Linked DNA regions of Homo sapiens. The protein of the gene in region 1 purifies or fractionates together with the protein of each later gene. This does not show direct contact. Each region holds a gene or a part of one and is shown on either strand. Other genes may lie near its edges.

Region 1 (5,392 bases):
GGCTCATAGTCTAGCAGACCTCTAGCATCACACAGATCAGCATTAGTGACCTGGAGACTCACGGGTCATAACATCATGAGATTTTAGAGCTGGAAAGAACTTACAAAGTCTGGTCTATTCCCATTTTATAGATGAGAAAACTAAGGACAGAGATTTTAAGTGAATGACCTCACTTAAGTGAGGCACAAGGCTAGATGTCATACAACCAAGACTAGGATTCAGTTCCTTGATTTTTACTCCAAGTCCCTTCCATCCTAAGAGCACTCTCTCATAACATTCAAGGGTGCTGTGAGTAGCAAAGGAAGTTGACAATGCTCTGCCCTGATTCAAAAGGCAAGAGGAACACAACAATCAGTGATGAAATGTGATTTGCGGGTGGGAGGGTGCTGCGAGGAGGATTTATGGTTGGTCTAAGAGCTTCCTAACAATCGACTCTGGCCAGGCCTAAGATCAGCTGCCCTGGGAAGCAGCAAGCTCCCCATTCCCAAGAGGTCTTCAGAAAGAGGAGGGGATTCTGTTGAGAGGTGGGAGACTGGTCTCTACAAACAGCAAAATTCCATGATTCCCACATAGAGAATGCACCCCCCCCCGCGCACCCGCATACATGGTTGGAGGAAGGATAAAAGCACAATTAGAGGCAGGGTTGGTACGGGTGCTACTAAGAAAGGCAGCATGGGACAGTAGGAACAGGCGTTTTTTTCCTTGTGGTCACTTTTCTTCCAAGTTTAAGGGCTCTCGGCTCCTCACTGGAGGAAAAATTCTCAAGTCAGAACTGCAAACCAGGAACAAAGGTTGTTCTCATATTCAAGAACTCAGCAAGGGTAATTATGGTTGACACTAAAGCAGGCAAGATTCTAGTTGGGCACAATGAAGATCTCCTTGACCAGCAGAGTAATAGAACACTGTAACTGACTGCAGCAGGAAGTTTAGAGGCTCTGTCACTTCTCCAAGGACACACACAGCTTTCTGGCCTGCAGGCTCAGATGCTCAGCTGTCACCAGGCTGGGGAATCAACCAGATGGCCTTCCGGGTCTCAAGTCTGGCATTCCTAGACCTGCCCAGGAATCTTCTCAGCCGTACCAGCGTCCCCAGGGTCCAGGGGAAACCATCCGCCACGCTATAACCCCGAGGCTCGGCAGCATTTCTCCCCAGTTTGCATTTTGATGTTTCATATAACGTATCTACTCCCACCAGGGTACATCTCCCTCCCTCGGTAAAGATATCCTTAGCCACCAAACCCAAATGGCTCACTGGCTTCTCTCCAAGGCAAAAAGAGAGTTTCACTCCTCATCCTCTTTTTCTATCCAGTGAGACTAATTCATCATGTGTACTGGAAAGTCCCTTTTAAGTCTCAGCCAAAAGTCTTTCTTTTTTCTTGGAGCACAAATAAGCTGGGAAGAGAGAGAGAGAGTTCACCGTTTTGCAAGTTTCAGAGGTGAAAGTCACTGTCACACACACACACACAAAAAAACCAGAAAGAAAAGAAAAAAAACTGGCAAAAAGTCTGGAAATTATTCACACTGAGAAGTCTGACTGGTTGATTTCAAATTCATTCACAGCTTAATAAATCATTTGCTGGGGGAAGAGGGGAGCAGAGGAGGAGCAAGACACTCCAAAGAGAACAAGCAGGGTGGGATCCCTGGGGTCTGTGCATTCTTTGGCATCGCTGGTACCTGGTGGCTCTAGCTTTTGCTGAAGGAGGATGTATGTGGGGGTGAGTAAATAATAGAGTTTGGCTGGAGCTTCAAAGACACCTTGGCACAATCCAATTACACAGTCCCAGGATAGCAAGCCCGCTACCTCTCCCTTCCCCATTTCTTAGGCTTCCAATCTAAATATCTCAATTAGAAAAGGGCTGGCAGGAAGGAATGGGGAGAGGAAGGGAGTTTGTAGCAGGACTAGGAAAATGGAGATTGCCTGTGTTTGCTATGTATAGGCTGAAACGGTCCCATCGCTGCCTACCTACCCCCAGCCCCCCAACTCCGCCCTGGAAGCCACTGACCTTTGCCAAGAAGGCGGCGTTCCTGATGGCGCCCACCATTTCTCCCCCCTTAGGGTGCACCTTGGCCACGTGCATCCACATGCGCTCCCAGGTGTGGCTGTCGATGGGGAAGCCGCTCTTGTTGACGTGGAACAGCACCCCGCCGTCTTTGTCCTCCTCCTCTGAGCCCCCGCTGGTGGCGAGGCTCACGGGCCGCGCGTGGCTGCTCCGGGACCGGGTGCCTTTGGCGCCTTTGGGGTGGGGGCAGCGGTGAGTGTCGGCCGCGGAGCCGGTCATGGTGGGGCCTGGGCGGGGAGCGAGGTACTGGGGGCGCGCGGCGGCGGCAGCGGCGGCGGCGGCGGGGGGCGTGTGCGCGCGGGCGCGGCGAGGGGATCAGCGCCCCGCGGGGGCGGCCTTCTCCATGCCTCTCGCTGCGGCAGGACTCACCAAGGGGGAGCGGCGGCGGGAGCTCCGCGGAGGCTCCCTGCTTACCGGCGGTGCCTGAAATCAGCGGAGACACAGCTGACACCACAGCTAAGTGGACGCACAGCGGAACCGAGTGAGGGGTCCCGGAGTGTCTCCACGACACTCCCCGCTCCCCCCTGCACGCTGACAGCCTCCCTGAGAATCGATGACGGGCTTCCAGCCCTGCGATTACCTAGAAAGGCAGCTCAAAATGTGCCACGAAGCTTCACACACACCTAAACCCGGGGGGTTGGGGATGGAGGGGCACAAGGAGCTTGGGGGATGCGGAGCGCAAGATGTGGGGAGAAGAAAGACAGCTTGTGTAGCATGAAGGAACAGGAGGTTCCCGCAAGGCTCCACACATTCCTGGGTCCTCAGATGTGGCCAAGAGAGGAGGGGAGCCACGAACGTGCTGGCATGTGAGCGCCCAGAGCTGGCGCGAGGGCGCTGCAGCAGCCTTGGCTTGCAAGGCGGCCCGCTTTCTTCCAGGAAGCCCTCCCGGACCCCGGCGGGGATCTAGTGGAAAGAGCTCCATCCGCCCCCTTTTCCCCGAGTTCCAGCGCCTATCACCGGGAGGGACTGGCTGCAGGCGGGCGGCGCGCAGGAAGGGCGCGCGGCAGCTCCAAGATCCTACCTCGGGACGGTTGGCTTCATGGCTGCAGAGCCTCTCCGGGCGGCGGGAGAGCAGGGGCTGCTGCTGCTGCTGCTGGGCCTGGGGCTGGGGCTGGGGCTGCTGGGGCTTGCTGGGGCCGTCGCCTCATTCCATGTCCCATTCTCGAATGTTATTCTGTGACATATAACCAAGTCACCCGGGCAGCCGCCGATGTTCCGAATGCGTCTATTGGCCACCGCAACAAAGAGGGGCGGGTCCCGGGCTCGGGACTCTACAACCCCGGGCTCCGCGACGCTCTGATTGGCTCCAGGGGTTCTCTGGCGGGAGGGGACAGGAGTAGGGGGAGCCTGGCGGCCACGCGAAATCCGATCGCTGTGGTGTCCTGAGAGCCCCGCGGGCTGGAGCGTTTGGCCATGGGACTTAAGATCGAGTTTCCCCAGGGGTCGTGGCACTTCGAGGGTTTGCAACTGTGGAAGCAGAGGAGAAACAAAACCACCCGAGAAGTGACCCCGCGGAAGCAGAGGGTTTGGCATCAGAAGAGCATTCCCTGAGGGACGCTGGACACACTTACCTGCCTCTACCCGGGATGATGAGTTGTTCATCCTCTACCTGGGATGATGAGGGGCTGTTCATACCTATGCGTGAAATTAAATCTTTTTTAAATCCCGCATTTAAAAATTCCTCAAAATTAACAAGTGGGTGCAGCTTTGGATCCTCTGGTATTAGTCATGGTTAATAAAGTCCCTTTAAGCCCAAGTTGAGAGGAGACAATAAAACTCAAGAGGTCAGGCAGGCCCTGACTGTTCTGCCACAGCTGTTGAGTGAGAGGAGGGATGGAGAGATGCTTCCAAACCATGGTGAAGTGGGTGGCTATCCCACACTCACTACTGAAACACCTTCTCTTTCTTTTTCTTTAAGAAAGAGGAGAGCAGGTTGAGGTGGGAAGAGCACCAGACTGCTGACCTGAAGGCTGGCTCCTGGTCCAGGTTTGTCACTTTGCTCAGCTGTGTGACCCTGGACAAGCCACTTCCCTGCTCTGGGCCTTAGCTTCTCTTTCTGAAAGGAGAGCAGACCTCCCGCTCTCCAGGGTCTGTTCTGGCTGTAAGGTTCTGTGATTCCCTGACTTCCTCTCTTGTGACACTGAGGATCCTGGCCATAGCATCCTTTCTCTTTAAACTGCAGGCCAGCAGGCCAGCTCTGAGCAAAGCAGTTATGAGACCTATGCTAAGTGAACCTTGAATTAAGAAGACAGTTGTCAAAGTGCCACTGATGGCGGGTCAGTTTCTGGATGCTTATCCTGACAAGTTGCCTGTCATGGAACTGGAACTTCTCTTCCACAGGAGGGCAGAGACCCCTGAGGGGTAGTTGAGAGCCAGGGCTTGGGTGAGGAGACCTGGATTCTGGACTTAGCCCTGCACTGCTCCCTGAGACAGAGCCCATGCCAAGAACTTTATAGATTCAATAATGAGAATAGGGCAGACGTGGTGCCTCACACCTTTAAACCCAGCACTTTGGGAGAAAGAGGAGGAAGGATTACTTGAGGCCAGGAATTAGAGACTGGACCAACATAGCGAGACCTTGTCTCTACTAAATAAATATTTTGAAATTAGCCAGATGTGGTGGCACACACCTGTAGTCCCAGCTACTCAAAAGGCTGAAGTGGACATGTAGAATGAAACTGGATCCTCGTCTCTCACCTTACACAAAAATCAACTCCAGATGGATCAAAGACTTAAGTCTAAGACCTGAAACCATAAAAATTCTAGAAGATAACATGAGAAAAACACTTCTAGACATTAGCTCAGGCAAAGAAATCATGACTAAGACCTCAAAAGCAAATGTAACAAAAATGAAAATAAATAAATGAGACCTAATTAAACTAAAAAGGGTCTGCACAGCAAAAGAAATAATCAGCGGAGTAAACCGACAATCCACAGAGTGCGAGCAAATATTCACAAACTGTGCATCTGACAAAGGACCAGTATCCAGAATCTACAAGGAACCCAAACAGATCAGCCAGATAAAACCAATCCCATCAAAAAATTGGCAAAGGACATGAATAGACAATTTTCAAAAGAGGATATACAGTCAACAAACATATGAAAAAATGTTCAACATCACTAATTATCAGAGACATACAAATTAAACCACCATAAGATACCATCTTACTCTTGCGAGAATTGTCATAAAAGTCAAAAAATAATAGATTTTGATGTGGATGTGGCAAAAAGGGAACATGCATAAAACTGCTGGTGAGAATGTAAACTAGTACAACCACTATAGAAAACAGCAAGATTCCTTAAGGAACTAGAAGTAGAGCTAAAGCTACCATT
Region 2 (4,727 bases), on another chromosome or scaffold:
TAAGCACCCAAGGCCAGGGGAAATTGTGAAAGAGCCTGAAAGCTCAATTCTCTTGCATGCAGGCTGTAGAGTCTCTTCCTCTCTGACATGAAGCTGCCTGGGCAGGGGACATCTGCCTCCTTTGCTCCTCACTGTAATCCCAAACCCTGGTACTCAAAAACCACTTGCTGCATAAATGAGCACTATGTCTTTTTAGAATTTGCTTTATGCAAAGTGGCAGATAACCTAAAGGTAGTTTCCTATAAAGTTTGCTCTCTCTTTTCTAGAGGAATGTGAGATTTCTATTCCACTTTTGCTTCTGCTGCACACGACCATAACACCTCTGAACGGATAAAAATGCTACAGCTAAAAATATTCTTGACATCAGAACAATAATTAAAATGATACTTCAGTGACTAAATCATCTTAGATTTGACTTTATAAAAGCTACATACCTTTCCATATGCAGGTCTTTCTTATTCCCAACCAACATAATAGGTATTCTATTTGTAAGAAAAAAAAGACAAACCAGTAAGTGCCAGATTGTATTGCTCAGAAGATACTATTAAAAGAAGTTTCTCTAACAAGCAGATAAAATGGTACTACTTACTGTACTTTCCCCACCATATCCAACAATTTGCCATGGATAACTTTAATCACTTCAAAACTATAAAACAAAAAGTATAAATTAGACATCCATTTTAATGTTGAAGTTTTTAAATGTATGTTATGTTGCCAGCTGGAAAAATGTAAAATGTCACAGACTCACCATTTTAACATAACATAAAATGAACACAAAGAACTCCTGTTTTTTCCTAGCAATCCATTCACATGTGCATACATCTGACACTCAGCAACCCTGACTGAGGATATTCAAAGTGAAACAGGTAAGGCATTCAAACGGAAAGCCTACCACTGGGCTGAGAAACCACATAAATGCAAATTTTAATCACCCAACTCATTCAGCAAAGAACCAACTGTTTACATTACAACTTGAACAGCTTTTCCTAGAGTGCCCTAGTACATTCAGCCTGCTCCTGTGTTCTTTCCTAGGTACATACATTCTCTGGGTGATGCCAGTATCTCTTGGCTTTCAATCAGATCAATGAGCCGATGACTCTAGGATGGAGGTGGCTCTCACCGGGAAGGGGATCTGAGATGTCATAATGATCACTTGAAATCTGCCACAGCAGGATTATTTATACCACTGACTGCTGGCAAATGGCCACAAATCATTTTCCACCCTCCCCCAAAAAACCCATGCAAACATCTGCCAGCACATCACTGGCTCTACTTTCAAATCCTACCTAGAATCTGACGGCTTCTCACTCCCCTCCACTGCTGCCGCTGAGGTGTGAATTCCTGGCCCAAGTCTGCCTGCATCAGTTCCACAGCCCCAACCCTTCCCCGCCACCCCTGCTCAGCACAGCAACCAGAGGACTCTGCTGCAGCAGATGGACGGTGCCTGGTTCAACATCCTCTGATGGGTGGCCATCTTTACTCGGCCCCAGTGACTCTCAAGCCGCAAACTTCTGACCTCGTGATCCGCCTGCCTCGGCCTCCCAAAGTGCTGGGATTACAGGCGTGAGCCACCACACCCAGCCTCAAATGTCACTTCTTACACCTCTTCTGTTTACCCTAAATGACAAATTTCCTTTCCATTTCTTACCCCTTCCGTACTTTATTTTTCTTGGCAGCATGGTCACAGACATCCTATCTCGCATGTGTGTCGTTTTACTGTTTGTCTCCCACACCAGAAATAATAGGTCCGCAAGGGCAGGGATTTGTCTGCTTTGTTCATGATTGCATCACAAGCTTCAGAATAAGTTAGCTTGTTGAATGAATTACACACTGTGCTATTTTAAACGATGTGTGCTGTCATTTGATAAAAACAAAAATGAAATTTAACCCCCCTACAAGCTCGCTGTGGGTCAACAAATGGGATATGGGTGTCCTAAGGACCTGCGGTTGCATTACAGAACCACGGTTTCCTCCGCATGCTGTATTTGCCTATCTTTAAAAGTGTCGCCACTTGGGCAAAAATACAGTACCCTGTCACGTGAGAAACAGCTGAAAGAACTAGGACTGTGTGGCAGGCAGCTTGGAGCCGGCTCCCAGATCTCCTGCTCTCCTAGTGGCCACACTGTGTGTCATCTCCCTGCATGGACCTAGTGACGTGCGTCTAATGAACAGAATATGGCAAAGGTGATGGAATGTCCCTTTTGCGGTTAGGTTATAAAAGACAGTGGCTTGTCATGCAGGAAATTCCCTGGCTCTCTTGTGCACCTGCCCCAATGAAGTGAAGCACCTGGCAAGGAGCAGAGGGCAGCCTCAGGCCAGCGGCCAGCAAGGAACTAAGAAGCTCAGTCCAACAACTTGCAAGAAACTCAACCCTGTCAAGAGCCACGTGAACACGCTGGGAAACATCTTCCCCCAGGCAAGCCTTCAGATGGGACTGCAGCCCCTGCTGATACCCACACTGTGGCTCTGAGAGACTGAAGCAGAGGACACAGCTAGGCCACACCCAGATTCCTGACCCACAAAAACTGTGAGATCATAAATGTGTACTGTTCTAAGTGGCTAAATTTCTTGAGATCACTGATTTTCTGAATCAAACTGGTTGATTCGGAAAGTTTTACTGACGTATTTCTTGGATATTCATAAATATTTGTGTATTCAGCATACAGATTTCTAAAAAACAAAACACCACTCTTCTCATACTCCCTCATGTCTCAAATTTGAGAATGCTGATTAAACTACGAGCTACTAGAAAAAAAAGGCATTATTTAAAACAGCCCCATTTGTTCCCAAACCCACTTATGCCAGTTAAATTCATCATAGTCATAATTTATGTTGCAAACTTTTGAAGTATGTGTAGACAGAGTTTTGTTTGTCTGAAAACTAGAAGTTGAATACTGTGAGTTGATCTACTAAAAACGGTGCTCCTTAATAAGGTGTGCCAAACCAACTGAAAAAGACTGGTGGGGAAAATCACAGCAATCTAAATAGTTGAGGTGTAGACTGTTTCCCAAGCATCTCACTCGGAAGAAACCGAACCAGAAGTCATAATGGACAAATCGTGGATGTAGTCATACTGAACAGCAGTGGGTGAACTCATATTCAAAGATGACAATTTGAAAATTTCACAAGATGAGTGACTGAATGTATATTTATGCTTTAAAACAAAACACTGGAGATTGACATCACCTTTCCGATTTTTTTTCCCTTTAACCAGTGTTGTTTTTTTGTTTTTTTTTTGAGACACAGCCTTGCTTTGTCGCTCAGGCTGAAGTGCAATGGCATGATTTCAGCTCATGATACAGTCTCCGCCTCCCAGGTTCAAGAGATTCTCCTGCCTCAGCCTCCCGAGCAGCTGGGATTACAGGCACCCGCCACCACACCCGGGTAATTTTTGTATTTTTAGTAGAGATGAGGTTTCACCATGTTGGCCAGGCTGGTCTCGAACTCCTGACCTCAAATGATCTGCCCACTTCGGCCTCCCAAAGTATTGGGATTACAGGTGTGGGCCACTGCGCCTGGCCCTTAACTAATGTTTTAAAGTAAGTAACCCGGCTGCCTCAGATAGGAGAGATCTACTCCTATATCAATATACCCAATTTACAGGCGACAAAGGTACGGTGAAGTAACTTGTCCAAAGTTGTTAGTGGGGATAAATGAAAACCCAAATCTCACATCTCTCAACTGCAGGTTTCTTTTTTCCATTTCTAGAAATTATGAAATAGGATGTATTTTCGCTTTATTTACTCAGAAAGAGCAATTCTACAGGGGTTTTATGATATAAAGGAATAATGTGAGACTTCTGTTTTATTTCACAAACAATGAAAATGGTTATTATTTAGATAGAGGTTAAATTCAATAAAAAGGATTAGACAATTCTGATCAACAAACTGGTTGATTCAGAAAGTTTTACTGACATATTTCTTGTATATTCATAAATATTTGTGTATTCAGCATATAGGTTTCTAAAAAACAAAACACCACTCTTCTCACACTCATGTTTGAGATTTGAGAATGCTCATTAAACTATGAGTTACTGAGGTAAAAGGCATATAACAAAAGAAAACACACCCATTTTAGTAAGGAGAAACTTGGTCAAAACTTGCAACAGTGCCACTGAGAAGACACAGTACCAAGCTTTTTGTCCTCTGCTTTGCACTAGGCCAGTGTTTTCTCAAATACATAAGGTCCTTGGTGAGCACACTTTCATATTTTTAATCCAGCTCAATGTATTTTTCAATTTCCCCAGTGGCACATGCTATGTTTTCAACTTGATTCTATAATGTCATCTAATTTGTGCACACCAAAAAAGAGACTTAAAAAAAATCAGTGGATGCACTAAGAAAATTTTCTACCTACTACTTTAATGCCTCAAAGTAACAATTTGTAAAGTAACACCAACACTGTTTTCTAAAAATCAGCTAGGATAAAATTGTACTTACCAACAACAAAACAATCTTTGAATCATGTTTTTCAAGTAAATTAGTAAAATAATGGAAATTCATAAACAAACATGAACTTCCAACATTCATTAGATTATTGGTACACTAAATTTGTTCTGGACAAGGCCTTACACGTGGCAGTATATACATTTTAAAAATATACAACTGAAATTAAAAAAATCTTTGTATAAAAATGGCCAATAGTTTTACTATTTAAAGTGCTCTTATAAGTCAGTAAGAAAATGATCATGTTTCCAAATACTAAGTACACAGTGGTTTTAAGCATAA

Evidence for each region. Proteins that work in one complex are often made in the same cells at the same time.
Region 2: the proteins of VASH2 (region 1) and RHEB purify together in Homo sapiens (affinity purification with mass spectrometry; one large-scale study listed by BioGRID and IntAct). This does not show direct contact.

Annotation. Positions count from the first base shown.
Region 1 is NC_000001.11:212,948,429-212,953,820, reverse strand, and holds the start of VASH2 (tubulinyl-Tyr carboxypeptidase 2), read right to left. Parts: upstream 3,281-5,392; 5' UTR 3,081-3,280; intron 2,483-3,080; 5' UTR 2,279-2,482; coding exon 2,003-2,278; intron 1-2,002. UniProt on the Homo sapiens protein: Tyrosine carboxypeptidase that removes the C-terminal tyrosine residue of alpha-tubulin, thereby regulating microtubule dynamics and function.
Region 2 is NC_000007.14:151,470,960-151,475,686, forward strand, and holds part of RHEB (GTP-binding protein Rheb), read right to left. Parts: intron 647-4,727; coding exon 590-646; intron 483-589; coding exon 435-482; intron 1-434. UniProt on the Homo sapiens protein: Small GTPase that acts as an allosteric activator of the canonical mTORC1 complex, an evolutionarily conserved central nutrient sensor that stimulates anabolic reactions and macromolecule biosynthesis to promote cellular biomass generation and growth.